4 linked regions of the Homo sapiens genome follow. The protein of the gene in region 2 interacts with the protein of the main gene of each other region in a pairwise test. Each region holds a gene or a part of one and is shown on either strand. Other genes may lie near its edges. The genes, in order: SLC10A1, CYB5R3, NXPE3 and GAST.

Region 1 (7,034 bases), on a different chromosome or scaffold from region 2:
ATATGTCCTTCCAGCTCTAATATGTATCCTACTTGTCCAATTTCCTTTTCCATTTGGAATCTTATATATGTTAGTCCCAGGACCCTGTCTAGGGAGAGGCCCTCCAGAAAGGTCAACTGAGAAGGAAGCTGATAGGGCATCTCCTTAGATTTATGGACATTTACATTAACAATATATGGCTCTGACTTTTATTCCAGTGGGAAGATGGTTGGGAGGTGAGGGCTTGGCAAGATCTTAGGAAAACCACACTCAGTGTGTCCCTCCTCCTCCCCACAGCCCTACCCTCCATCTACACTTCTTTCATTATTTCTATAAAGATGGAATATGGCTTAAATATGCATGAAGAGCAGCCTATATCAAAGGTTCCAGAGCGTAGCCATCAAGAACAATAGGTAGGCATGTCATAAGGATAAGAGCTGTTAGAGGTGAGAAGAGTCCCTCAAAGAAAATTGTGAACTAGGTAATAGGAACTCCCCCACCCCCGTGAACACTTAAATACACACTTGAGCTTGTAAGAAATTAACACTCAATTTAAGTGTGGCATAGTGGCTCATGCCTATAATTCCAGCATTTAGGGAGGCCGAGGAGGGAGGATTGCTTGAAGCCAGGAGTTTGAGACCAGCCTGGGCAACAAAGTAAGACCCCTGTCTCTACACACAAACAAATGAACAAACAAACCAAAAACCACACACAAAAATTAGCCAGGTGTGGTGGTGTGCACCAGGAGTCCCAGCTACTTGGGAGGCTGAGGCAGGAGGATGGCTTGAGCCCAGAAGGTTGAGGTTACAGTGAGCTATGTTAGCGCCACTCCACTAAAAAAAAAGGTGCCCACGGACAAGAAACAAATGCAAAGTAGTGGGGGAACTCAAGCTGAAGCTTCATAGAGGGGTTCTGGAGGGGAGTGGGGTGTTAGTCTTGGCACTGTGGAGGCTTTAATGCCCAAGGAAGGGACCAGAATTGAGGTATTAGACCTGGGATGGGAGGAGCATTGAAACTGAGCAACCAATAAAAGGATCATGGGATGAGGGGAGGGGAACTTTCTAATTATATCATCAAATATGAAATCATGGTGGAAACAGTATTTAGAATATAAAAATAATAAAATACATATTTAAAAAACATGGAGAGGGGACTTTGGATTAGGCAATGGTTTCTTAGACATCTAAAGCACGAACAGCCAAAGAAAAAGGCAAGTCAGACTTCATTAATATTAAAAACTTGTGATTCAAAGGACACCATCAAGAAAGTGAAAAGCCAACAAGAGAATGGGAGGAAATATTTGCAAGTCATATATCTGATAAGGGTCTAATATTCAGAATATATATGAAGAACTCTTTTTTTTTTTTTTTGAGATGGAGTCTTGCTCTGTCGCCCAGGCTGGAGTGCAGTGGCGCAGTCTCGGCTCACTGCAAGCTCCGCCTCCTGGGTTCACGCTATTCTTCTGTCTCAGCCTCCCGAGTAGCTGGGACTACAGGCGCCTGCCACCACGCCCGGCTAATTTTTTTTGTATTTTTAGTAGAGATGGGGTTTCACCGTGTTAGCCAGGATAGTCTCGATCTCCTGACCTCGTGATCCACCCGCCTGGGCCTCCCAAAGTGCTGGGATTACAGGCGTGAGCCACCGCGCCCGGCCAATATATGAAGAACTCTTATAATGCAATAATAAAAAACAAGTAAAAAATGGGCCAAGGATTTGAATGAGATATTTTCCCAAAGAAGATATACAAATGGCTAATGAGCACATGAAAAGATGCTCAACATCATTACTTATTAGGAAAATGCAAATCAAAACCACTTTGAGATACCACTTTATATCTACTAGCATGGCTATAATTAAAAAGCTGGACAATAACAAGTGTTGGAGGGTATATGGAAAATTAGGAATCCTCATACACTGGTGGTGGGAAGTAAAATGGTGCTTTGGAAAATAGTTTGGCAGTTTCTAGAAAATTTAAACACAGAGTCACCATATAACCCAGCAATTCTACTCTTAGGTATATATCCCAAGGGAACAGAAAGCATGTTCACACAAAAACTTGCCTGTGAGCTTCCATAGACATTATTCATACTAGGGAACAAGTAGAAACAACCCATGTGTCCATCAGCTGAATGAATGGATGAGCAAAATGTATTATATCCATACAATGGGATATTATTCAATTACAAAAACAAATGAAGTATTGTGACATGCTATCACATGAATGAACCTTGAAAATATGCTAAGTGAAAGAAGTATAGATACAAAAGGTCACATATTGAATGCTTCCATTTATGTGAAATCCATAGAGACAGAAAGATTAGTGGTTGTCAAGGGTTGGAGCAGGAGAGAGAAATGGGGACTCCTGCTAAATGGGATGGAGTTCCTTTTTGGGGTATTGAAAATGTTCTGAAATTAGATAATGGTGATAGGTTCACAGGCTTGGAATTATGCTAAAAACCAAGGCATCGTACAATTTAAAGAATGGATTTTATGGTATGTGAATTATATCTCAATAAATAGTAATTAAAAACCATGCAGGGAGCAAATAAAGCAATTATTAAAGGGCAATTTATAGCCTAACATATTTATATTGAAAAAGAAGATTAAAAATTAATGAGTTAAGCACCTTAAGAGGTTAGAATGAGAAAAACCCAATAAAAAGAAAAGGAAGAAATTTTTTAAGTTTTGTAAATTGTTAGAATCAGTAAAACCAAAAATAGGGTTTTTTTTTTTTCTTTTTTTTTTTAAAGGCCAATTAAATAGGCACCTCTGGCAAGGCAGACCAGGGAAAAGAGAGATGGCACAAATTGATGAGGTTAGTGTGAAAAAGGGAACATAACTACAGAGAAAATGAAGATTTTAAAAAGTCATTAAGGACATTTTCATACTTTCATTTTTAACTTAAATGGACAATTTCATGGGAAATATAACCTACAAAACCAAGTCAATATGAAGCCGAAAACCTGATTCAACTTAGAATCATTTAAGACATTTAATAAGCAGTTCAAAACCTATCTTCTAGAACCCTACATGATTTATACTGTCTTACGGTAGTGTTCTACTAAACATGCAAAGTGCAGATTGTTGCAATATTATGCAAATCTGTCCAGATAATATAAAAAGGGGAAACATGCCCTAATTTATTGTATAAAGTTAATATGATCTTGGAACGAAAGCTGGAGAATGATATTACGAGAAAAGAAAATTGGGGACCACTCTTATTTATGAACATAGAAACAAAAATAATAAAATATTAGCAAATAAGTGTTTTAAAAAATACAATGAACAAGATGAGTAAGAATGATTTAACATTAGATAATCTATTAATACATATTACTATATTATTAAAGAAATGGTACAATTTTGTAGCTATAGAAAAGTCAACAAAATTTAATGTTCTTACATAATAAAAATTTAGTACACTAGCAACGGAATGAAAATTCCTTAACTTGAAAGGAAATCTATTAGAAAAAGTATATTAAACGTTAAACTTAATGGTAAATAGAGGGATTTTCTTTAACAAGAGGAATAAAGCAAAGATAGTCATTATTATTACCTGTTTTATAAATTATACTATATATAGGCCCTAGTAAGCACAGCAAAACAAGAAATAGAAAAAGTATAGGGATGGGAAAAGAAGAAATGAAACTTTCTTGTTTTGCCAATGATAGGATTGTCCACAGAAGAAATCTAAGTAATTTTCCATTATAACTGGTAAGTAAGAAAATGTATGAGGTTCTAAATACATTAGCATCAGTCAGTCAATCAATTGGGTCTGATATACTAGAAACAAATATATATATATTTTAAAAGACACCATTTATGATATTCACAAAACTAGAAAATACTTATACATCTAAAGGACATGTAAGATCTTTATGAAAGAAATTACAAACCTTTATAGAAAGGTATTAAAAAAGGCCTAAGTAAAAGAAAAGCTATATCATATTTATAGATGGGAAGATTCAATATTATAAAGATAGTCTCTCAATTTATATATAAATGTAATGCACATTTAATAAAACTTCCAGACTTATAATTTTTTTTGTAGACTTGAAAGGTGATACTGAAACTCAAGTGAAAGAGTAAAAGGCTAAGAATAGCTAACATGATTTTTTTTTTTTTTGAGACAGAGTCTCGCTCTGTCACCCAGGTTGGAGTGCAGTGGTGTGATCTTGGCTCACTGCAAGCTCTGCCTCCCGGGTTCACGCCATTCTCCTGCCTCAGCCTCTCAAGTAGCTGGGACTACAGGCGCCCGCCACCACGCCCAGCTAATTTTTTGTATTTTTAGGAGAGACGGGGTTTCACCGTGTTAGCCAGGATGGTTTCGATCTCCTGACCTCGTGATCGGCCAGCCTTGACCTCCCAAAGTGCTGGGATTACAGGCGTGAGCCACTGTGCCCGGCCCATGATTTTCAAGAACAAAGTAGGGGGACTTAACTTTCAGATAACAAAACTTATAAAATTGTAATTAAGAAAGTGTGGAACTGGTACAAGGGTAGCCACATAGACCCGTAGAAGAGAAGAGAGATCCAGACACAAGCCCTGCATTTATGAGAGAGATGTCATTACAAATACCTGGAGAAAAATTCACTCAACGTGGCTTGGAATCTTCTATTTGTATGGAAAAGATAAAATTAGTTCATGCCATACATAAAAATAAGTTCTACATTGATTGGAGCTCTCCATGTGAAAATCAAACATTTAAAACTTTTCAAAGAAAATACAGGGTAATATCTTTGTAACTTTGTAGACAGTAAATTTTTTTTTTTTTTTTGAGACAGGGTGTTGCTCTGTCGCCCAGGCTGGAGTGCAGTGGCATGATTTTGGCTCACTGCAACCTCTGCCTCCTGGGTTCAAGTGATTCTCATGCCTCAGCCTCCTGAGTAGCTGGGATTACAGGTGCACATCACCATGCCCAGCTAATTTTTTTGTATTTTTTAGTAGAGACGGGGTTTTGCCATGTTGGACAGGCTTGTAGATAGTAAAAGATTTCTTAAAGAAACCCCTAAAAAACATAAACCACAAAGGAAAAATATTGGCAAATTTGACTAAATTAACATAAGCAATCTATCAGACATTATTATCAAAGTGTAAAGACCAGCTCCAAACTGTGAATAGACTGTTGCAACATATATAAAACAATAACTTTAGAAATTAATTTTCAAAACCCACCCAAACCACAATCCCATAGAAAAACAGGCAAAGGACCCAATGTTTCCAGAAGAGGACACATGAATGGCCAACGCACACGTGGAAATGTGGTAGGCCTCCCATGAAATCAAATTTAAAACTACTGCGATCTGCTTCACTGTTTTCATTTGGAAAAAATTAAAAAGTCTGACAATTCCAAATATAGATGAAGGCACAGAGAAACAGGGATCTTCAGACACTGCTAGGGAACGTGTGAAGTGAACAATGACCTTGGAGACCTCTTAAAGATGTGTGACTCCCACGACCCAGCAGTCCTGCTTCAATTGCATATGCCCTCATGTGGGCAGAGGGACACACACAAGTCTGTTCACAGAAGCGAGACGTAAAATCCACATGAATCTGACAACAGGAGAATGGATAAATGCAAGCAAACTGCACAGCAGTTCAGATACATGAGGTAGCTATTTTCTTTACATGCCTATTTCTCAAAAAAAAAAAAAAAAAGCAAGCTGTTAGGTGATGTGGACAGTATAATACTGTTCGTACAAAATTAAAAGACGTAAATCCCGCAGTCTATCTTGTTTATGAATATATACGTATATAATAGTTGAAAAGGGTCGGTGGAAATGCTGAACACCAAATTCCCAGGGATGCTCCCTTTGGCAAGTGGTGGAGGGTAATGAGATTGGGAATAGGAATACAGGGGGTTTCAATGCTACTGTTGATCTTCTCTTAGGGAAAAGCCAAACACAACTTGTGTGTTTGTTCTGGTGACCTAGAGCAGAGGAATCATGCTTACTTTGGCTTGTGTGTCAGGAGTTTTGGAGTTTGGACTTGGTGTGCCTTGTCAGCTTGGGTATGCAGGAGCCATGTTCCCTGATCCCCAGGTACTTCCTCCACTTGCACAGGTCCTGGGGTCAGGTCAGGGACATCCATCTCCTAGCCTGCTGGCATCCGTGACTGTTGTGATCCTTGGTTTACCCCAAGGGACAGGGACGGGCAAGGACTTTTTCAGACTCTAGATTCCTGAGATTGTAGGCCTGGTTGCCTTTCAGGGGGAAAGGGGCACATTTGTTTTTTTTATTTTTCCCTCCTGCTTAAGTTCCAAGAGCACAGCATAGACCTTGCTTTTGGACATCTGTGTACCCCATTTAAGGGACTCGTTCGAGTGTCCGTCAATGCACAGATTGGAGGCAGAAGCTGAGGGAGCTGTGAGGGGCCTCAACACAGTCTCTATGAAGTGGAAAACTTCTGGGACCCCAGTGGCTTCCATCTTGTCCTGGTTGAGCTTCCTACATCATGGCTGGGAGACCTGTGGAAGTGCTTGGGTTGTGTCCAAGCCCATTGTCCCCATGGCCATTGGCTCTGGGCTCTGCTGTGAGTCCGATGGTGGCAGGGGGAGCAGATGAACTTGGGGCAGCAAGGATGGTCAAAAGAGGCCAGTTCCTGCTGGCATAGCACTCTCTTCTCTGTGCCTGACAAGCCATACTCACTTCAACTGTGAGGGCGTTTTCTCTTGCCTGTTTGTCACCTACATTTTTTGAAACTTGTCTAGTGGCCTTCCTTGAGGAGGGAGCTGCCGTCCCTGGCTGCATTGAGGGGTCTGCTTGGTGGCCTGGCCTCCTGGGATGGCAGGCTGTCCCCAGACTGACTCCACCTATGAGGCAGAGTGAGTGGAGGGAGACACAGTTTCCCACAAACTCTGGGAAACCTCTGGCAAGTCTCTGACCTCAGCCTCTTCATGTGTAAAATGGGATCTGTGTCTTACAATTCCTTCCAGTTCTAAATGGGATGTAGAGTATTGTGCTTATCTCAAACTGGGGCCTTTGGGCTACAGCTGGCCCTTTGACATGTATTGTTTGGTTTGCACATTTAAAAAAATGGAATGAGTTGCTGATTTC
Region 2 (7,034 bases):
TAGCTGGATGTGGTGGCGGGCACCTGTAATCGCAGCTACTCAGGTAGCTGAGGCAGGACAATCGCTTGAACCCGGGAGGCGGAGGTTGCAGTGAGCCGAGATTCACGCCATTGCACTCCAGCCTGGGCAATAAGAGTGAAATTCCGTCTCAATTTTTTTAAAAAAAGTTATGTCTTCCTCTCTGAGCTAAAGTGTGTCTCATGCTTTAATCCTCACCACCATCCTTTGAGGTGGCCACCGCCGCGACCCACCTGACAGATGAACAGAGGGATGGAACCTTGGGGGGCTGCTACTCGAGGGTAGGGGGCTCCCAGCTCAAAACCAGGCACTGAGGTCACGGAGGAAGGTAGGAGAGGAAACGAGCAGCAATGACCCGACTGGCACGGTTCTCGGAGTGTAGCATGGGGACCCCTGGGGTTGGGACCCTGGAGAGGATCCCTGAGGCCAAATGGTTTTCATATAATACTGAGACACTGGTATTTTTCACTCTTCCTCTCTCAGTAGATGGGGCCACTTTCCAGAGGCTGCGTGACTGGCAACATCACACAGATGGGATGTAGAAACAAACACAGGAATCTAGCTGTCCTATGAAGCCAGACATTCCAAGGTTTGCAAAAACGTAAAACAGAATGATGTTTTCTAAAATAGTTTTTTAAAAATAAAAATAGGCTGGGTACTGTGGCTCACGCCTGTAATCCCAACACTTTGGGAGGCTGAGGCGGGTGGATCACCTGAGGTCAGGAGTTCGAGACCAGCCTGGCCAACATGGTAAAACCCCATCTCTACTAAAAATATAAAAATTAGCCGGGCATGGTGGCACACATCCTGTAATCCCAGCTACTCGGGAGGCTGAGGCAGGAGAATCACTTGAACCCGGGAGGCGGAGGTTGCAGTGAGCCAGGATTGTGCCATTGCACTCCAGCCTGAGGGACAAGAGCGAGACTTTGTATCAAAATAAATAAATAAATAAAACCCTGGTTTGCATCCTGGTTTCAGCACTTCCCACGAGACATGCACAGTCAAGCCCCTCCCGGAGCCTGTGTTCGGAGGTATGAGATGAGGCGACCACACTGCCCTCGCTACCAGCTGCAAAGATGGCCTGTACAGGTGACAGACGGTCTGACGGCCTCCACAGACTCTGAACCAGCACCACCAAGTCTCACTGCTGCCCTCTCTCCCTCCACACCAGCCAGCTTAGAATTTCTGGCTCTTTCTCCCCTGGGCCTGGCAAGGCCATCTTGGTTGGCCTTGCGGCAGTTTTCTGCAGCTGCGGGGAGGCAGGGTGGGGCAAGGACCCACATCCAAGGACCTCAGGCAAGCATCTTCTCCCCCAAATCTACGTCATCAGTCACAAAACACTAACCTGAAAAGACCTTGCAACAACCCAGTTTCATCAGCTCATTCTACAGATGAGGGAGTGAAGCTCAGAGAGGGAAAGTAGCTCGTCCAAGACCACACAGCAGGCCAGGGCGGGCAGGCAGGCAGTGGGCTCGTGGACAAGGATATGAATCAGGAGCCAGAGACACCAACATTCAAATCCTGCCCTGACACCCTGTAGCTCAGGGGCTTCGTGCAAATGTCTGGTCATTTGTAAGATGGGCCCCTCCATGTCCAGGCCAGCATTCTTCCCACTCTACCAGTGGGTTCCACACCGTGCTCATGGTGAAGGGAGTTCTGAGTTTTGGAGGAAGCAGCCAGGGGAGGGGGTGCTCAGGGAGCTCCCCGCAAGGCAGCCCCCTCAGCCAGACACAGGCGCTGCACCACAAAGCCTGCCCGCCGTGCTGCTGCCAAGGCCGCCAGTGCACAGAACATTCAGGGCCCCCCATCCCGGTCATCCCCAGAATCTCAGCAGAGCTGTGCAGACCCCTGGAACAGCACCTGACCAGGCCCGAAGTCCCCTCTCAGGGTAAGCTGAGTTTCCCCATCATGGGGATGCCCACTGACCTGGTTGGCAAAGAGCAGGTGGCACACAGTGTGGTCATCAGGGTCCTTCATGATGGCGCGGATCACCTGCAGCATCGGGGTGATGCCTGCAAAATAGCCGGCCGGGCCTCGCACGTGCTGAGCGAGGCCTGTTCACAGGCACCGCCCCGCCCAGGTGTACTGGGGTGGAGGGGCCAGGACCACTGGGCCTGGGCCCCTGACCTCTGGTAGCTCCCAGGCACTCAGAACCTGCGCCTCACCCACACCCCAACCCCACCCTTAACATGAGCCGCCGGACGCCTCAGTGGGGGGTTCCGTGTACCTGTCCCTCCCGCGATCATGCCCACAGACTTCACTGTCCTGATGATAGGGTTGGACTTTTTGTCAGGTCGGATGGCGAACTTCCCTGGGGAGAGAGAAGGGGTGAGGCCCGGCCATCAAACATGCCATGTGTGGTGGCTGGAGAGGCTGGAGAGGGGGCTGGAGAACCTGCCCCCACTGTGAGGTCCGAGGTAGAGGCAGCTGCCATTCTAACGCGAGCCATGAGGAAGGTGCAGGAGCAGTGGAGAGGCTGGGAACCCGGAGGCTCAGCTCTGTCCTCTTGCTTGCTTGTTTCAGATGCTGAGAAAGCCAAATAGAGGCTGGCAGTGGGTGAGACGTGGCCCCCAGGAGTGGCCTGTCTGCAACCCCTGTGCCAGCAACTTACCCCCTCTACAGCCAGGGAGACTCAGTTCCCAGAGAGGGACAGCTGGCCTGACGAGAGTCACCCATCCACACAGAGCCAGGGGCCTGCACCCTGCACCCAGCACGCCCAAGCTCTCCAATTCTCTGAGCCTGCCGTGTAACCAAGGGATTCCGACCCGAATCACCTTTGCCCTGGTAGACCAGCAGCCCACTGGGGCCCCGGAACTCAATGGTGTCTCCAATCTGCATGCTCTCCAGGTACTGAGACATCTTCCCTCCAGCGGGAAACTTGGGATGGGTGTCCTTGAAGTAAACCTGCAAGACACCCCCGCAGCCCTCAGTCCCCAGCTCCAGGTCTCAGGGGCGAGCTCTTGCCCACAGTGGGAGACAAGTGCCTCTTCTGCAGCTTCTTCTGAGGCCCACACATGGCCTTCTCCCGTGGAGCCCCATCCACCCAGCCGTCAAATCCTACCTGTCCTGCACCCCGTCCTTCACCCCGTCCTCCCAGGAGTCAGCCTCCACCTGACATATCCGGGGAAAGCAAACCACCAGCCTCGTGTACAAGGCCGACCAACTCCAGGGCTGGATGCACTCACATTTCACCAACTGTCTCTGGGGCCCCCTCCCAACGGGAGACACTGAACCCGTCAGCAAAGTCAAGGCTCTGGGAGGCCCACTAAGCCACACTCCTCCTGGTGGACACTCAGTCCCTTCCGTTTTGTGCTGTCGCTAAAAACCTCCCTCACTCTTGGGACTACTTCCTGCCCTGCACTCTCTAGGATTACTGTCTTGGGAAAGAGAAGGGCCTCAATCCGACACCTACAAAGAAATGGGGAGACAGAGGAGGAGCGGCTCACCCTGCCCAAGGAGTCTGATGGATGGAGAAGGGGAAGGTGGCTGGGGGAGGGACAGCGTGTACACAGTGCCTCAGGGAGGGGAGCCTGTTGTGGCTTCAGCACAGAGGGTGGCTATGGGGTGTGGAGGCAGAGGGGAGTGGAGGGCCACGGACAGGCAGGCAGAGCACACTGTCCTGGGCCCTGGGTGCCAGGCCAGGACTCTAACCTTTATCAAGGACCAAGGGAGCCAGCCAGGTCTCCAAGCCAGGAGAGGCCTGGTCACCTGTGAGTTTTTCATCCTCAATTTGAATCCTCCTAATAGCTTCTCCACATTTGGCCAGAGAGACTTCAACGTGAACAGATGCTTGAGCCCTCATCACCTCCTCTGTGCTTCTGGACAAAGCCCCAAACCTTACTGGGGCCTCCAAGGCCCCGTCTGGCCCCACTGACCTCTCCCACCCCTTGCCCCAACCCTCCAGCCACTTCAATCCTTGAGCCTGCTGCTGACTTCAGGGCCTTTGCACCTGAAGCTCCTTTTCTTCCTTCTTCACCTGGTCAGTGCCTACTCAGCCCCAGATCTCACCTTCACTGTCACCTGCTAGGGAGCCACTCTCACCAGCCAACCCCACCCATCCCTGGTGGCCCTTCTGGAAGCTCGGTCGCAGGTACCTGTCCCCTGCAGGGAGCACTGGCTTCCCCATGACTATGTGTCCAGTGTCCGTCCTCCAGCCAAAGACGGGCTCCTGAGGCCAGGCCTGGGCGCCCCAGCAAGGAAGGAGCCCGGGCCAGGGCCCTTCCCACCCTTCAGATCCAGTGCCTGCCCCCAGACCTGGCAAGGTAAGGGCCTCAGCTACGGCCCAGTAAGGGGGCTCCAGGGGTACCTGAGGGTGCTGGGCTGGGGAGGCTATAGGGCTTTGGCCTTGATTGGGGAGGGTCTCCAACACCCCACATACCCACTGGTCTAGGCTGCTTCTCACCCTCTGTTCTGCAGGAAAGCTTGTATTTCTTTTTTTTTGACTGGCTCTCATTCTATTGCCCAGGCTGGAGTACAGTAGCATGATCTTGGCTTACTGCAACCTCTGCCTCCCAGCTTCAAGTGATTCTCCTGCCTCAGCCTCCCAAGTAGCTGGGATTACAGGTGCGCACCACCATGCCCAGCTAATTTTTTTGTATTTTTAGTAGAGACGGGGTTTCTCCATGTCGGCCAGGCTGGTCTCTAACTCCTGACCTCAGGTGATCCACCCGCCTTGGCCTCCCAAAGTGGCTTACAGGTGTGAGCCACTGTGCCTGGCTGAAAGCTTGTATTTCTAATTTTCATAAAAACGTCCCTGCTGGGGCCGTCATGCTGCCTCTTACTTCCCACTCGGCATGTGTGTTTCAGGTTCCGGGCTGCTGCCCCTAACGCCTGCATCTTCTCCTGTGAACCTCCACCTCGAACCCCGCAGCAGACCCCAGAAAGCCCATCACCCCAGCTCCCAGACAACACCACACGAGCCCCTCACATGTTTCCCTAGCAGGCCTGAGGGACATTTCTTAGGGAAACGGGTAAGAACAGGGCCTGCGTGTCACAGAGGCCCGGCCGCTGACCACGGTGGAGTGGCTGCCTCACCCCGCACACTCGGGACCCAACTCCCAGGGATCTCCCAGCGTGAGAGCAGGGACGGGACTGCGCCGTCACACCTCGCAGCAGGGGCGTCTGTACCGCCAGCCGGCCTTCCTGGAGCCTCTGCTGCAGGTACCTGTCCTTGTTTGAAGGCACTTGCCCTGAACCCTGGCCCCTGTTCTCTGCCAAGACCCCCTTCTTTGGCTTTTGTTGGTAAAGATGACGTGCTATTTACTCAGAAACCAGGCACAAGGGAGCACTGGGTCTTTGGAGTCCGGGCTGCGGGGGGACATGGACTCGAGAGGGGCTCTAGAAGCCACTGCCCCTGCAAGCCCCTGAGGAAGTGGGGCAGCCATGACCGAGGCTGGGCTGCACAGGGCAGGAGCGGGAGACTTCCCTGTCCAGGGGGTCCACATGGGCTGTTGCCATGGCCACCCACCCACACCCCCTCCACAGTCATGACCCAGAGGCTTCACCTTGATGACCAGGTCCACGAAGCCCTTGTCATCATCGCTGGAGATGGGTGTATAGGGCCGGACGACCAGGTTTCCATCAATTCGAGCCGAGAGGTAGATGTGCTGGCCTGCAGGACAGAACGGGGTCACTCTGGGCCAGAGATCATCCTGCGGGTGACCCCTGGGTCTTGTCAACCCACTCCCCTGCACCCCACCCGGCATTCAAAGCCTGGCCTGGCGTCAGCTCCCACGGCCCCCTCCCACCCCTCCCGGGGATTCCCCTCACGTCCCAGCTTCCTGCCTCCATGCCTTCACTCCTGCTGGTGCCACTGCCAGGGACTCTGGGCCTTCCCACTCTCATTCCAACAGACTCGCCCTCAAAGGCCCAGGGCAGCTGTCACCTCCTCCTGAAGGCTTCCCTGCTCTCCCTGGTGGAAATGTAAAGCTTCCATCTCTCTGATCTAGTGCCCCAGCAGCCTGCCGGGCTCCGAATGGGCCCAGCAGGGGCGTGACTCACCGACAGGGAGGCCCAGGATGTGCTGGGGTGACGGCAGGGCAAAGCGGAAGCGCCGGGTGTCATGGCTGATGATCTGGAGAGAGGCCCAAAGCTGCTGAACGGTCCCCAGGGCAGAGGCCTCCCAGGGCGGCTCCCAGGCCTCGGAGCCCCCATCCCATTCCTCCTTTGTGTCCCCACCCTTCCCCAGTGCCTGCTTGTCCTTGTAAGACGTGACGCCGACGCCAAGCACAGATGCACACACATGCACGCTGCGTGTGAGGTGCTGAGGCCAGGCGCACGCTGGGTGTGTCTGTCCTGCTGGCCTAGAGGGGCCACAAACAAGGTGGCCAGAACAGGGAATGAACCCAGGGTCCCAAAGGGAGGATGCCAGACAGGACGGGGAGGGAGGAATCCATCTCTGCCATCAGCTCAAGCAGTGGCCTGAAGGGGCAGGAAGAACTTGAGGGCTGGATGGGCAAACTGGGGCAGAGCTAGACAAGGCTGCACGTGCCCAGGCCTGCATCCCAAGAGAGGGGCTGCAGAAGCCACTGCACCTGAGAGCCCCTTGGGAAATGGGGCAGCCAGGACTGAGGTGGGCTTCACAGGGCAGAAAGTGGGAGCCTTCCCTGCCCAGGAACTCCAAGAGCCCAAAGCCAGGCTTCCACCCTGCACAGGGTGGGCACCCAGGGCATGGTCAGTGGCTGGGACAGTGGCAGAGGAGGAGGGGGGCTGGCTAAGAGCCAGATTGGGCCAGGGAAGGAGCTGAGACTAAAACCCCTGAGGTCTTGTTAAGTGGGTCTTACGCTCAGGCCAGGGACGATCACATAATCAGTTCCAGTCGGAGCTGGAACCAAACCCAGCGTCCTGAGGGTGCACTCCCTGTGGGGTCCCCAGTACCCAGCATGGCCAGGAGAGGGAGTGTGAAGAAGCCATGCGGAAGGTCGGCGCTGCAGAGGCGCTTACATCCAAACGTGGCAAAGTCCACATGTGGATGGTGTCATCACTTAGAGGGGGACAACAGACCTCTCCAACAGGGC
Region 3 (4,555 bases), on a different chromosome or scaffold from region 2:
ATATACAGATTATCATGAATCTGGGGGTCCAGCCAAATCATCAAATTTCAGGTTTTCCTCATTCATAAAATGGCCATTCATACATTTTAATTTTACAGCTGTAAGAATGAATGAGGGCATGCTATAAAGTATTTCAATTTACTCTGATATATTTTCCCATATAGTTTCATGCCTACGGTTGGTGGGAAAGTACTCCTCTAAACCCACACATCAAATCTCCTGGGAGACTTCTGCCTCGGGATATCATAGTTCTAGGTCACTGACAGAAGATAGTGTTACATTAGATTTATGATACTTCATCACCCATTCTATCGATCTCCTCCATTAGTATCTCAGTCCTTCCTGGGCCTTTAAAGCAAACAGACATGATTCTTGCTATTACTAAACTACAAAAACATCCCAGATTTTCTTTCTCCAAAAAACTATCCCCCAATATTTTGCCCCAAAGCAAGTATGGCTACTCAAACATAGGAGAGTGACTCCAAAGTTAAGAATCTGACTATGGGAATAGGAAAGAAAAAGAAAAAAAAAATCTTACCATTTAAGATATTTTAATAAAATATCAGATAATAAAAATATACCTTTGTGTTTGAAGAGTCAAGTCACACAAATACGTAAGAGCAAATCAATTGTTTCCAGCTGTAATCAGCGATAATAACCCAAGTACGTGACAGCATGAGAAAGACGATCAGTTTCCTTTTGAGGTTACATGATAAGCAGCAGCTAAGCAGCCTTTTTCTCTAAGAACTCGCCGTCTGACCTCGTGGCAAGAGGAGGCCAGCCCCTCTCACTGGCGCCCTTTATAGCGTTCGCTTTCAGTTCTCCACTCTAGTGAGGACGGGGGCGGGGGAAGCTAAGAGCCTGTTTTCTAAAATGCAGAATACGGTCATCCTCTCTTTCGAACCGGGTTGCGTGGGCACTGAGGAGGGCCAGAGGAGGCAGGGAGGGGGCAGCGAGGCCTAGATTTGTGGATTTTTTTTCTGCACACTGGAAATTCCCAGACCAAAAAGGTACCGACCCGAGTCCCGGACATTCCCCTCGAGGGCCGGCTCCAAGACCTGGACTGGAGCCGCAGGGAGGAATCAGAGGCAACATCTACAAACAAAACTTTTTCCTTAAAGACGTCCTTTTAAAATGTCCTAGTGAATCTCCTGATGGGCATTAGAGTTGCCTTCTCATTAGATTCACCTCATCTTATTTCGCTTTTTCTGTGTGGCCCCTAAACGTGAGGGTGCAGTGGGCGGGTGGAGGGAGTTACCTTTTACCATATAGCTTTTACAATACGGCAATCAAAAAGTAGTATCGCAATCATGTGCCTTCACTGACTAATTAAAGGACAAGAAATCTGTGACATAAATAAAGCAATGGTCCTGTAACATGAAGATCACTTTATTTTCAAGGAGTAAGGGGAATGGTAATGGGGTAGATTTAACAGCAAATGAACCACTGCACAAAACTGAAAGGATTTCTCCTATGACATTTAGTTTCACTTCTTTTCCATTTAGGACACTAGCTGCTGTAATCTCGGTACTACTTTTTTTTAAGTTATCTTCCCCAAGCAGTGTTACAATCCAGCTGGAATGGGCATTAGATATACACATCATTAGACTCTTAAAAAGAGGCCCGATGGCCTCTCATTTAACCAGAATATTAAAAAAGAAAATATATGTACACACATATAAATATATTTAAGTTCACACTTTTTTATTTTTTATTTATTTATTTATTTATTGAGACAGAGTTTCACTCTCGTTGCCCAGGCTAGAGTGCAATGGCATGATCTCGGCTCACTGCAACCTCCACCTCCCGGGTTCAAGCGATTCTCCCACCTCAGCCTCCTGAGTAGCTGGGATGACAGGCATGTGCCACCACACCTGGCTATTTTTGTATTTTTAGTAGAGATGGGGTTTCATCATATTGGTCAGGCTGGTCTTGAACTCTTGACCTCAGGTGATCCGCCCACCTCGGCCTCCCAAAGTGCTGGGATTACAGGCATGAGCCACTATGCCCGGCCCACATTTTTTTAAAAAGTTAAAATGTAAAAGCACTTTTAAGAGACAAGTTAGACAGAAGGTGGTGGAGTACATTTTCTGCTCTCCTAGCTTCTGTGTCCTTTAAACTCCTGCCCTCAACCATCCTCTTATCGTCCACCACCTCCATTCCCCTAGGATTCCCAGGTCCCCTTAGCACTCAGGGGCTGTGGTCTCACCTTCAAATGAAAAACAACAACTTCAAAATTTTATTTATTGCACACTGAGGTGTCAAGAATCCTAAGTACACTAATACTACATTGTAGACATAAACCAGGTAGAATAATGCTTAACACAAGAAAATAAATACACTTGAAGTGGAATTTCTGGCATTAGTGACTAGCTGATGTTAAAAAGCTGAATTTACCCAGAATCCACAGAGATAATGCTGAGCAGTTTTTTAGAAAGTTGGGGAGGCTTATTTCTGTTGTTTCCCTTGGGTGTTTATTTCCCTGTACCTCTCTCAGTCATCACTATTTCCTTGAACAGGGTCCAGAAACAGACTCATTTCTGGCATGTAACACATGAATATATAAAGGCGTACCATATTTATTCTTGTCAAGTACCCTGATTTACCAATCTGCAAACTAAGTTTTCAGATTGATAAATGTGAAACTGGATTCAGTTATTAAACTGGATCAAGTTTCAATCTGAAACTTAATAACTGAATCCAGGAAGTGTCAGTTAAATGGTCTTAATTAAAATGATAGTTGTTCAGAATGGCAAAATGAATCATACTGGAACACCAAAGGTCTGTTTTGCATTCGCTGAAGAAAGGTTACTTTTAGTAGGATAATTCTATAAAATGTAACTTGCATAGAAAGGCTTTATTATGGGTTCTGTCTGTCACAAATAGCATCAAATCAATCATCTCAGTTCTGGAATATGAGATTCACTACATTAAATTAATACTTTCATTCCAAAATAGAAATTCATATTTTAAACCACTGAAATTGATATAAACCACTGCTTTAATATTGTAAACCTAAATGTCCAACTATAATGACCAACTTATCTAATAATGAAAACTGCAGTAGCAGAACTATTAAGCAGATCTTTATAATTAACTTATGAAGACTATTTAACATAGAAAAATATTTATATGTAAAAAACACAGACCCAAATTACATATTCTCTATAAGTATATGGTTAAAAAACCTGCAAGAAAATATACCTAAATGCTAATGTTCATTGCATTCAGATGATAGAATTATGGATTTTATCCATAGATTTTTCTTCTAGATTTTATAGTTTTTAAAAATTATGATGCCCCTTATATTTATATTGGGAAATATACATTTAAACAAACTATTATTTGGCTACCATGCTAATATTCACAACCATGTGGCACTAGCCTAAAATAAACTTTTCAGAAGAAACTAAATTATTCTATCTAAATATTCTGGGAAACGTTTAAGTGATATTGGAATCTCTATCAAAATTTCCACACCAGAGTGAAGAAAGACAAATTAGATGTGGGATGAAAGTTGTTCTCACTGATAAGTGAGAGCTAAATGATGAGAACACATGGACACATAAAGGGCAACAACACACACTGGGGTCTATTGGAGGGTGGAGGGTAGGAGGAGGGAGAGGATCAGGAAAAATTACTAATGGGTACTAGGCTTAACACCTGGGTGATGAAATCATCTATACAACAAACCCCCATGACGTAAGTTTACCTATGAAACAAACTGGCACATGTACCCCTGAACTTAAAAGTTGTTAAAAAAAAAATTTTTTTAAGAGAGATGAAAGTGACTCAAGAAGCTGTGTCACCAAATCTTTGAGAGCTATGTCACCAAATCAAAAAATAACAGAAAACCAGACAAGATCATAAGAAATCATTTGCACAATCAAGTGGCATCATTCCAAACCACTGGAGGAGCAATGCCCGCTTTCTTTTTAAAATTCTCCTGGGAAAATTACTCCTCAGCCTCCTTTATAAATCCTTGAGGAAATGTCAAGTTCTTTCACGACAAGAAAAACTCTCAGCTGGGCACAGTGGCTCACACCTGTAATCCCAGCACTTTGGGAAGCTGAGGTGGGCAGATGCTTGAGCTCAGGAGTTTAAGACCAGCCTGGACAACATGGCAAAATGTAGTCTCTACAAAAAGATACAAAAATTAGCTGGGCATGGTGGTACATACCTGTAGTCCCAGCTACTCAGGAGGCTGAGGCAGAAGGATCCCTTGAGCCCAGGAAGTCAAGGCTGCAGTGAGCCATATCATGCCACTGCACTCCAGCCTGGGCAAAAGAGCAAGACCCTGTCTCAAAAACAAATAAATAAATACAAACGCTTCTTTACGAAAGTCTCACAAGTTTAGCTGAAAAGAGATATGGACTCTCACATACCTTATTTCAGATCTAAACATGAGTTCCTCATCTATAAAATGGAGCTAATATCACCAATACTATTGGATCATGAACAGAATTAAACCAGTTATTGGTAAATCCCCCAAAATAATAAACAAGCCATGTTTATTCCCTCATTCTATCTTACCTCTTCTCTTAGTGTTTCTCAC
Region 4 (7,042 bases), on a different chromosome or scaffold from region 2:
TGATGAGTGTGCAATTCTTTCTTTTTTTTTTTTTTAGACAGAGTTTCACTCTTGTTGCCCAGGCTGGAGTGCAGTGGTGGGATCTCGGCTCACTATAACCTCCGCCTCCCGGGTTCAAGTGATTCTCCTGCCTCAGCCTCCAGAATATCTGTGACTATAGGCACGTGCCACCATGCCTGGCTAATTTTTGTAATTTTTAGTAGAGATGGGGTTTCACCATGTTGGCCAGGCTGGTCTCGAACTCCTGACCTCAGGTGATCCACCCGCCTCGGCCTCCCAAATGCTGGGATTACAGGCATGAGCCACCGCACCCGGGTGAGTCTGCAATTCTGTGTGGAGTTGTGGACTATTTCTTCAGATCAGTTCTCCAGTTTCTGCCAGTTCCACACCAGCCCCGAAGTCTTGTGTTTTTTCTCTTTACCTACCCCGATTACAGCCACTGCTTCTATTGGAGAAAGTCAAATCCTAGGGCAATGGTTTCCCTAGGTTCTGTTCTGCAGAATTTGAGGCCATGTTAGTGGTTCTGTAGCTGTTTAAGTAATGTAATTTATTTATTTATTGAGACAGGGTCTCACTCTGTCGCCCAGGCTGCAGTGCAGTAGTGCAATCACTGCTCACTGCAGCCTCTACCTCCTGGGCTCAGGTGATCCTCCCACCTCAGCCTCCAGAAGAGCTGGGACTACAGGCTTGCACCACCACGTCCAGCTAATTTTTTTTGTATTTTTTGTAGAAACAGGGTTTCACCATGTTGCCCAAGCTAGTCTTGAACTCTTGGGCTCAAGCAATCCTCCCGCCTCAGCCTCCCAAAGTGCTGCGATTACAGATGTGAGCCACTGTGCTCAGCCCAAGACTTGTTATTTAAAGTGAACTTTTTAGGCCAGGCATGGTAATCCCAGCACTTTGGGAGGCTGAGGAGGATGGATCCCTTGAGCCCACAAGTTTGAGACCAGCCTGGGCAACATACTGAAACCCCATCTCTACAAAAAATACAAAAATTAGCCAGGCATGGTGGCATGCACCTGTATTCCCAGCTACTTGGGAGGCCGAGGTGGGAGGATCGCTTGAACCGGGGAGGTGGAGGTTGCAGTGAGCCGAGATTGCACCACTGCTCTCCAGCCTGGGCGACAGAGTGAGACCCTGTCTCAAAAAAACAAAAACAAAAAGTGAAACTTTTAAATAGTAATACCAAAGGAACATGGACATCCAGCTGTGTTACAGACCGCATGTTATCACTTTGGAGACTGCAGCACATTCAATGCTTGGCCAGCTCACACTGATTTTTGTGCAGCCCTGAGAGGAAAGGTTCTCCTGTCATTTTTGCTTAACTGAGGAATATCCTGTGATTATAATGAAGCAGTTAAGAAAAAATTAAGCTGTCACCATTAGCAATTATGTATCAGGGTGAATCAAGTTTGGGGAAAACATAATACAGAACTAAACTGGAATCTCAAACAAACATAAAATTCAAATGCTCATCTATTCCCTGGACTCACTATTTTTGTATGCTTTTGGTCTCACTATTCTGATTGGCTTTATCATAAGAAAATGATAAAAATTTTCTCTTGTCAGAATACATTTGTATTAATAAAATACTGTACTGCTTTTAAGTTTTTCTTTTTTTCTTTTCTTTTTGTGAGACAGAATCTTGCTCTGTCTCCCAGGCTGGAATGCAGTGGCTGGCGTGATCCTGACTCGCTGCAGCCTCGACCTCTTGGGCTCAAGAGATCCTCCCACCTCAGCCTCCTGAGTAGTTGGGACTACAAGTGTGCACTACTATGCCCAGCTAATTTTTTTGTTTTTATTTTTAGTAGAGATGAGGTCTCACTATGTTGCCCAGGCTGGTCTGGAACTCCTGAGCTCAAGCAATCTGCTTGCTTCAGCCTCCCAAAGTGTTGTGATCACAGGCATGAGCCACGGTGCCTGGCCATTAAGTTTTTCATAATCAGGTTTTCTGTTAGGTTTTCTTTGGAAGAAAAGAATTCTGCTGCTGAAGAAATGTTTGAAAAATCAGTGATCTGGAGCTGTATTGTCAGATGCTAACCACATGTGTTGTTCAGTGCTATAGCCACCAGCCACATGTGGCTCTTTACATTTAAATTAATTAAATTAAAAAATTATGGTCAGGTGCAGTGGCTCACGCCTGTAATCCCAGCACTTTGGGAGGCTGAGGGGGTTGGATCACTTGAGGTCAGGAGTTTGTGACCAGCCTGGCCAACATGGTGAAACTCTGTCTCTACCAAAAATATGAAAAATTAGCTGGGTGTTGTGGCAGGCGCCTGTAATCCCGGCTACTCGGGAGGCTGAGTCAGGAGAATTGCTTGAACCTGGGAGGCAGAGGTTGCATGTCACTGCACTCCAGCCTGGGTGACACGGCGAGACTCTATATAAAAAAACAAACAACAACAACAACAAAAACTTCCTTACACTAACCCCATTTCAAGCGCACACGTGGCTAGTGGCTACCATATTGAACAGTGCAGATGAAGACCATTTCCTGCATCATAGGACGTTCTTTTGGATGGCACTGGTCTAGGAAAGGGCTTGAAGTGGGATCCAGGAGCTGTGGATTCCTATCCCAGCCTTGCCTAATAATCCCTGTGACTTTGGGCAAGTCACATCTTGCCTCTGGGCCTCAGTTTTCTTGTCTGAGAGAAAGGAGAAGAACCCCAGTCCTCCTCACCTCCCAGGGCTGGGAAGAGTGTGAAGGGATAGGCTAAGGGCAGGGCCCCGGCTGCGGCAGAAGGGCAGGTGGAAGGCAAGGTTGGGAATACCAGGGTAGGTACTGGAGCCAAGACCTAGTTCCATCCTGGGATAAAGAAAGGGTCCCAGCTCTGGAGACCCCAAGGGGTGAGCCCCAGACTCTGGCCAGTGGCCTGGTACCTTGATGGGGGAGAGGACCTGTCAACCCACTTCCTAGCCTCTCCCCTCTCCTCCTGGGTTTTCTCACCTGCAGAGCTGGGAGGTGTGTGGTGCCACGGCTGGGCCTGGTGCCTCTCAGGTCTCTGCTCTGCTTGATGCTCCAGGCCTGCCTTATAAAGCCCTCAAGGTCCCTCCCAACTGTCCCCCCACCCCGCCCCTACCCTGCCATATGAGTCCAGGCGAGAGGAATGGGGTGGGGCACAGGTACAGCCCATCACCCTGCCCCGCCCTTTCATTTAGTGTCAGTCAGTCATCCAGGATGTGGGGGAAGGATAGGGGAGTTGACCTTCATGGTGAGGGGCTGGAGCGGGGTGGCGGCAGCTCTCCAGCTGTACCTGAGGGGCAGGAACCAAGCTCCCTGGGTCAGGAGCAATGCTTCCCACCATATCCTGGGGGTCAGAGGCCTGGCACTTATCTCTCGAACTACATAGGGACCTTTGTGGGTGGTGGTAGGTGAGGGAGTGAACCCGATGGGCTTAGATTCAGGGAAAGTGGATTTCGCCATCCACTGATGTTTGGCAAGCGTGTGAATGTGGGGTGATGTATTGATTCCCCGTCCCCTCCACTGGACTCTGCAAACATAACGTGTTACCAGGAGCAATGGGTTGTGGGCTGATGGCCCTGTTCTCTCCTTCTAGTGGCTCACATCCTGGTCACCTCTGAAGTCCTTTCACCCTCCCCCTACCATGGAACACCCTTGGTGCCTTCTTCTCCTTAGGCCCTCTGTGCTGGGCTGGGTTTGGCTTGTAGCTGCCCCGTGTCTTCTAGGTCAGCTGCCCATGCACCACCACTTGCAAACCCCCTATGCAGAACCAATTCCTGGAGGGTCCTGCCTTTGAAGCCTCCTTCATTTTGCTTTCAAGGGGAGCTAGTAATCTGCATAACAACTTTTTTTTTTTTTTGAGACAAAGTCTAGTTCTGTCACCAGGCTGGAGTGCAGGAGTGCAGTGGTGTGATCTCGGCTCACTGGAACCTCCGCCTCCTGGGTTCAAGCGATTCTTCTGCCTCAACCTCCCTAGTAGCTGGGATTACAGGCGCACGCCCCCACGCCTGGCTAATTTTTTGTATTTTTAGTAGAGATGGGGTTTCATCGTGTTGGGCGGGCTGGTCTCGAACTCCTGACCTCATGATCGGCCCAGCTTAGTCTGCCAAAGTTCTGGGATTACAGACGTGAGCCACCATGCCCAGCCAACAACTTTTCAGTATCAAAATATACCTTCAAATGGTTAGCAAACAGACTAAAGCATTTGCCAAAGATGGACCAGAAAACAAAATGGTACCTTGTTGACTTATTTGATAAACTGCTGCCTCCACATGGTTTGACCAGATGTAATGAGCCGTAGGCTGTTTTTTACTTTTCCACTGTTGAGAGCAGAGATTTTGCTCCTGTTCATGCGTCATTGGGCCCCCACCTTTTCTGGGAGAGTTTGATCCCCTTGGGTATTGGGTAACTGCAGTGGTACCCATGCTTACAGCCAGCCTTGCTGAGAATTAATGGGTGATGAAGGAAGCAGGCTGTGCGGTGTCCATGGCAACTGACGGCTGAATAACCGTTGTGAATAACCACTCTCATCTAGAGCAGGACACGGTGACTCAGCAGATGGAATAAATGAAAACGACAAAAAGCAGTGCAGGCATTGGTGATAATTAATTGAATCACAGAATCTCAGAGATGAAAGGACTTTGAGGGGGCTTGGGAGAACAGGTGGGGTGAGTGTAGCTCTGTTCATACACTAGGGGAATGAATGAAGACATTCGTGTTGCTATGGTAACACTAATGGGAAATGATAAGTTTTCAGTAGAACCCTGGTTGTACCAGAGCCCAAGACTCAGTTTGTGCCCATGGAGGGGGTTATGCCCCCTTGAATGTTCTTCCCCAGGCTGGTTACATGAGGGATGACAATTTCAACAAATAGAAGCATGTCTCCTATTCCATAGGCAATGGTTAGAATGTCACTATTTGGCCAGGCTTGGTGGCTCACTCCTGTAATCCCAGCACTTTGGGAGGCTGAGGCAGGTGGATCACGAAGTCAAGAGATCGAGACCATCCTGGCCAACATGGTGAAACCTTGACTCTACTAAAAATACAAAAATTAGCTGGGCATGGTGGCGGGCGCCTGTAATCCCAGCTACTCGGGAGACTGAGGCAGGAGAATCGCTTGAACCTGGGAGGCACAGAGAGGTTGCAGTGAGCTGAGATCATGCCATTGCACTCCAGCCTGGTGACAGAGCGAGACTCTGTCTCAAAAAAAAAAAAAAAAAAAAAAAAAGAATGTCACTATTTGCAGACCCTGCCAGGTCTGCAGGGGAAGGGTTGCATTCAGAGATGAGCATCCTTGACCCTGAGGAGCTCCCCAGTCACGGACTGCACGTTCTCCTCATGAGGGGACCTCGTCTGATGGAAAAGGAAGGGTTTCCTGGTCCTGTCTTTTTCCAGCTGTTGAGCTTTGAGCATATTTCTCTCCTTCTCTGAGCTGTTTTCTCCTCTAGGAAATGAGGAAAGTAACTTGGGGAGGAGGGTCTCGTGAAGGTGATGTACATAAAGCGCCCTGCACGGTGCTCAAAACATTGCAGATATTTGGCCGGGTGCGGTGGCTCATGCCTGTGATCCCAGCACTTTGGGAGGCCAAGGCAAGCAGATCACCTGAGGTCAGGAGTTCGAGACCAGCCTGAACAACATGGTGAAACCCCGTTTCTACTAAAAATACAAAAATTAGCTGGGCGTGGTGGCACATGCCTGTAATCCCAGCTACTTGGGAGGCTGAGGCACGAGAATTGCTTGAACCCAGGAAGTGGAGGTTGGAGTGAGCCAAGATTGTGCCATTGCACTCCAGCCTGGGTGACACAGTGAGACTGTCTCAAACAAACAGACAAACAAAAGAGAATATCGCAGGTATTTAATCCATTTTGCGTCTTCTCCCCCATCCTCTCTGGGTCTCAATTAACCACATTTGGAAATAGGAATCATTCATTTGTACCTCATAGGGCTGCAGTGAAGGGAAGAGGTGACAAGGTCTGTGCACACGCTTTATACACTTGGGGGAGTTCTCCTTCCCCAAGGCTTAAAGGAGGGTAATTCCCTAAGCATATCACTCTGTGAATCCAAGGGTTTCCCTCCTGCCAGCTGTGACTCAGAGGGACCTCAGCCCAACTGCCACTGAAAGAGGCAGCAGGGATAGAGTCTATGGAAGCTGGACCTCCTGGTGTACAGGGGGTTTTGGAACTGGTGAGGCCAGGGTTTGAATCATGGCTCTAACACCGACTAGCTGGGTGAGCAGAAAATTCAATTTCTGGGCCTACCAAATTGAAGACCAGATCCCAGACCTTGGGACCCATCTCCGTCCCCCTCGAGGGTGCAGGTGTGTGGGCCCTGCCCCTGTCATCACAACGATAACAATGCCGTGTACCAGGAACTGATAAGCTCTTAGCATGAATGAATGCAATCACTCTTCACCATGATCCTAGGACCTAAGTGCTAGTGTGAACCCCTTCTTCAGAAGAAACTGATGGGTACGGGGGCTTACGCCTGTAATCCCAGCACCTGGGGAGGCCGAGGCCGGCAGATTACTTGAGCCCAACAGTTGAAGACCAGCCTGGGCAACATGGCAAAACCCCATCTCTACAAAAAATACAAAAATTAGCTGGGTGTGGTGGTGCGTGGCTGTGGTCCCAGCTATTTGGGAGGCTGAGGTGGGAGGATTGCTTGAGCCGGGGAGGTGAGGTTGCAGTGAGCCATGATTGTGCCACTGTACTTGGGAGACAGAGTGAGACGCTGTCTCAAAAAAAAAAAAAAAAAAAAAAAAGAAGTAGAAACTAAGGCTTAGACAGGTGAAGTAATCCCCATCCTGAGTCCACACACCAAAAAGGAGAGGTGGGTCTGAAACTCAGGTCTCTATCCTCCCAGTAGGAATGTGGCAGGCAGAACAATCATGTCCCCAAAGATGTTCCTGCCCCAATCCTTGGAACCTGTGAATATGTGATTACATAACAAAAGAGACGTTGCAGGTGTGATTAAGGTTACTGGCTTTAAAATAGAGAGCTTATGCCAAGTGCAGTGGTGCATGCCTGTAGTCCCAGCTACTCTGGAGGCTGAGGCAGGAGGATCACTTAAGCCCAGGAGTTT

What was found.
Region 1: the proteins of CYB5R3 (region 2) and SLC10A1 interact in binary tests that used the Homo sapiens proteins (3 or more experiments, as listed by UniProt).
Region 3: the proteins of CYB5R3 (region 2) and NXPE3 interact in binary tests that used the Homo sapiens proteins (3 or more experiments, as listed by UniProt).
Region 4: the proteins of CYB5R3 (region 2) and GAST interact in binary tests that used the Homo sapiens proteins (3 or more experiments, as listed by UniProt).

What each region holds. Positions count from the first base shown.
Region 1 is NC_000014.9:69,787,214-69,794,247, forward strand, and holds part of SLC10A1 (hepatic sodium/bile acid cotransporter), read right to left. Parts: intron 1-7,034. UniProt on the Homo sapiens protein: As a major transporter of conjugated bile salts from plasma into the hepatocyte, it plays a key role in the enterohepatic circulation of bile salts necessary for the solubilization and absorption of dietary fat and fat-soluble vitamins.
Region 2 is NC_000022.11:42,625,360-42,632,393, forward strand, and holds part of CYB5R3 (NADH-cytochrome b5 reductase 3), read right to left. Parts: intron 6,092-7,034; coding exon 6,019-6,091; intron 5,630-6,018; coding exon 5,523-5,629; intron 2,923-5,522; coding exon 2,793-2,922; intron 2,330-2,792; coding exon 2,246-2,329; intron 2,031-2,245; coding exon 1,945-2,030; intron 1-1,944. UniProt on the Homo sapiens protein: Catalyzes the reduction of two molecules of cytochrome b5 using NADH as the electron donor.
Region 3 is NC_000003.12:101,824,211-101,828,765, reverse strand, and holds the end of NXPE3 (NXPE family member 3 isoform 1 precursor), read right to left. Parts: 3' UTR 535-4,555; downstream 1-534.
Region 4 is NC_000017.11:41,708,293-41,715,334, reverse strand, and holds the start of GAST (gastrin preproprotein), read right to left. Parts: upstream 3,005-7,042; 5' UTR 2,948-3,004; intron 1-2,947. UniProt on the Homo sapiens protein: Gastrin stimulates the stomach mucosa to produce and secrete hydrochloric acid and the pancreas to secrete its digestive enzymes. It also stimulates smooth muscle contraction and increases blood circulation and water secretion in the stomach and intestine.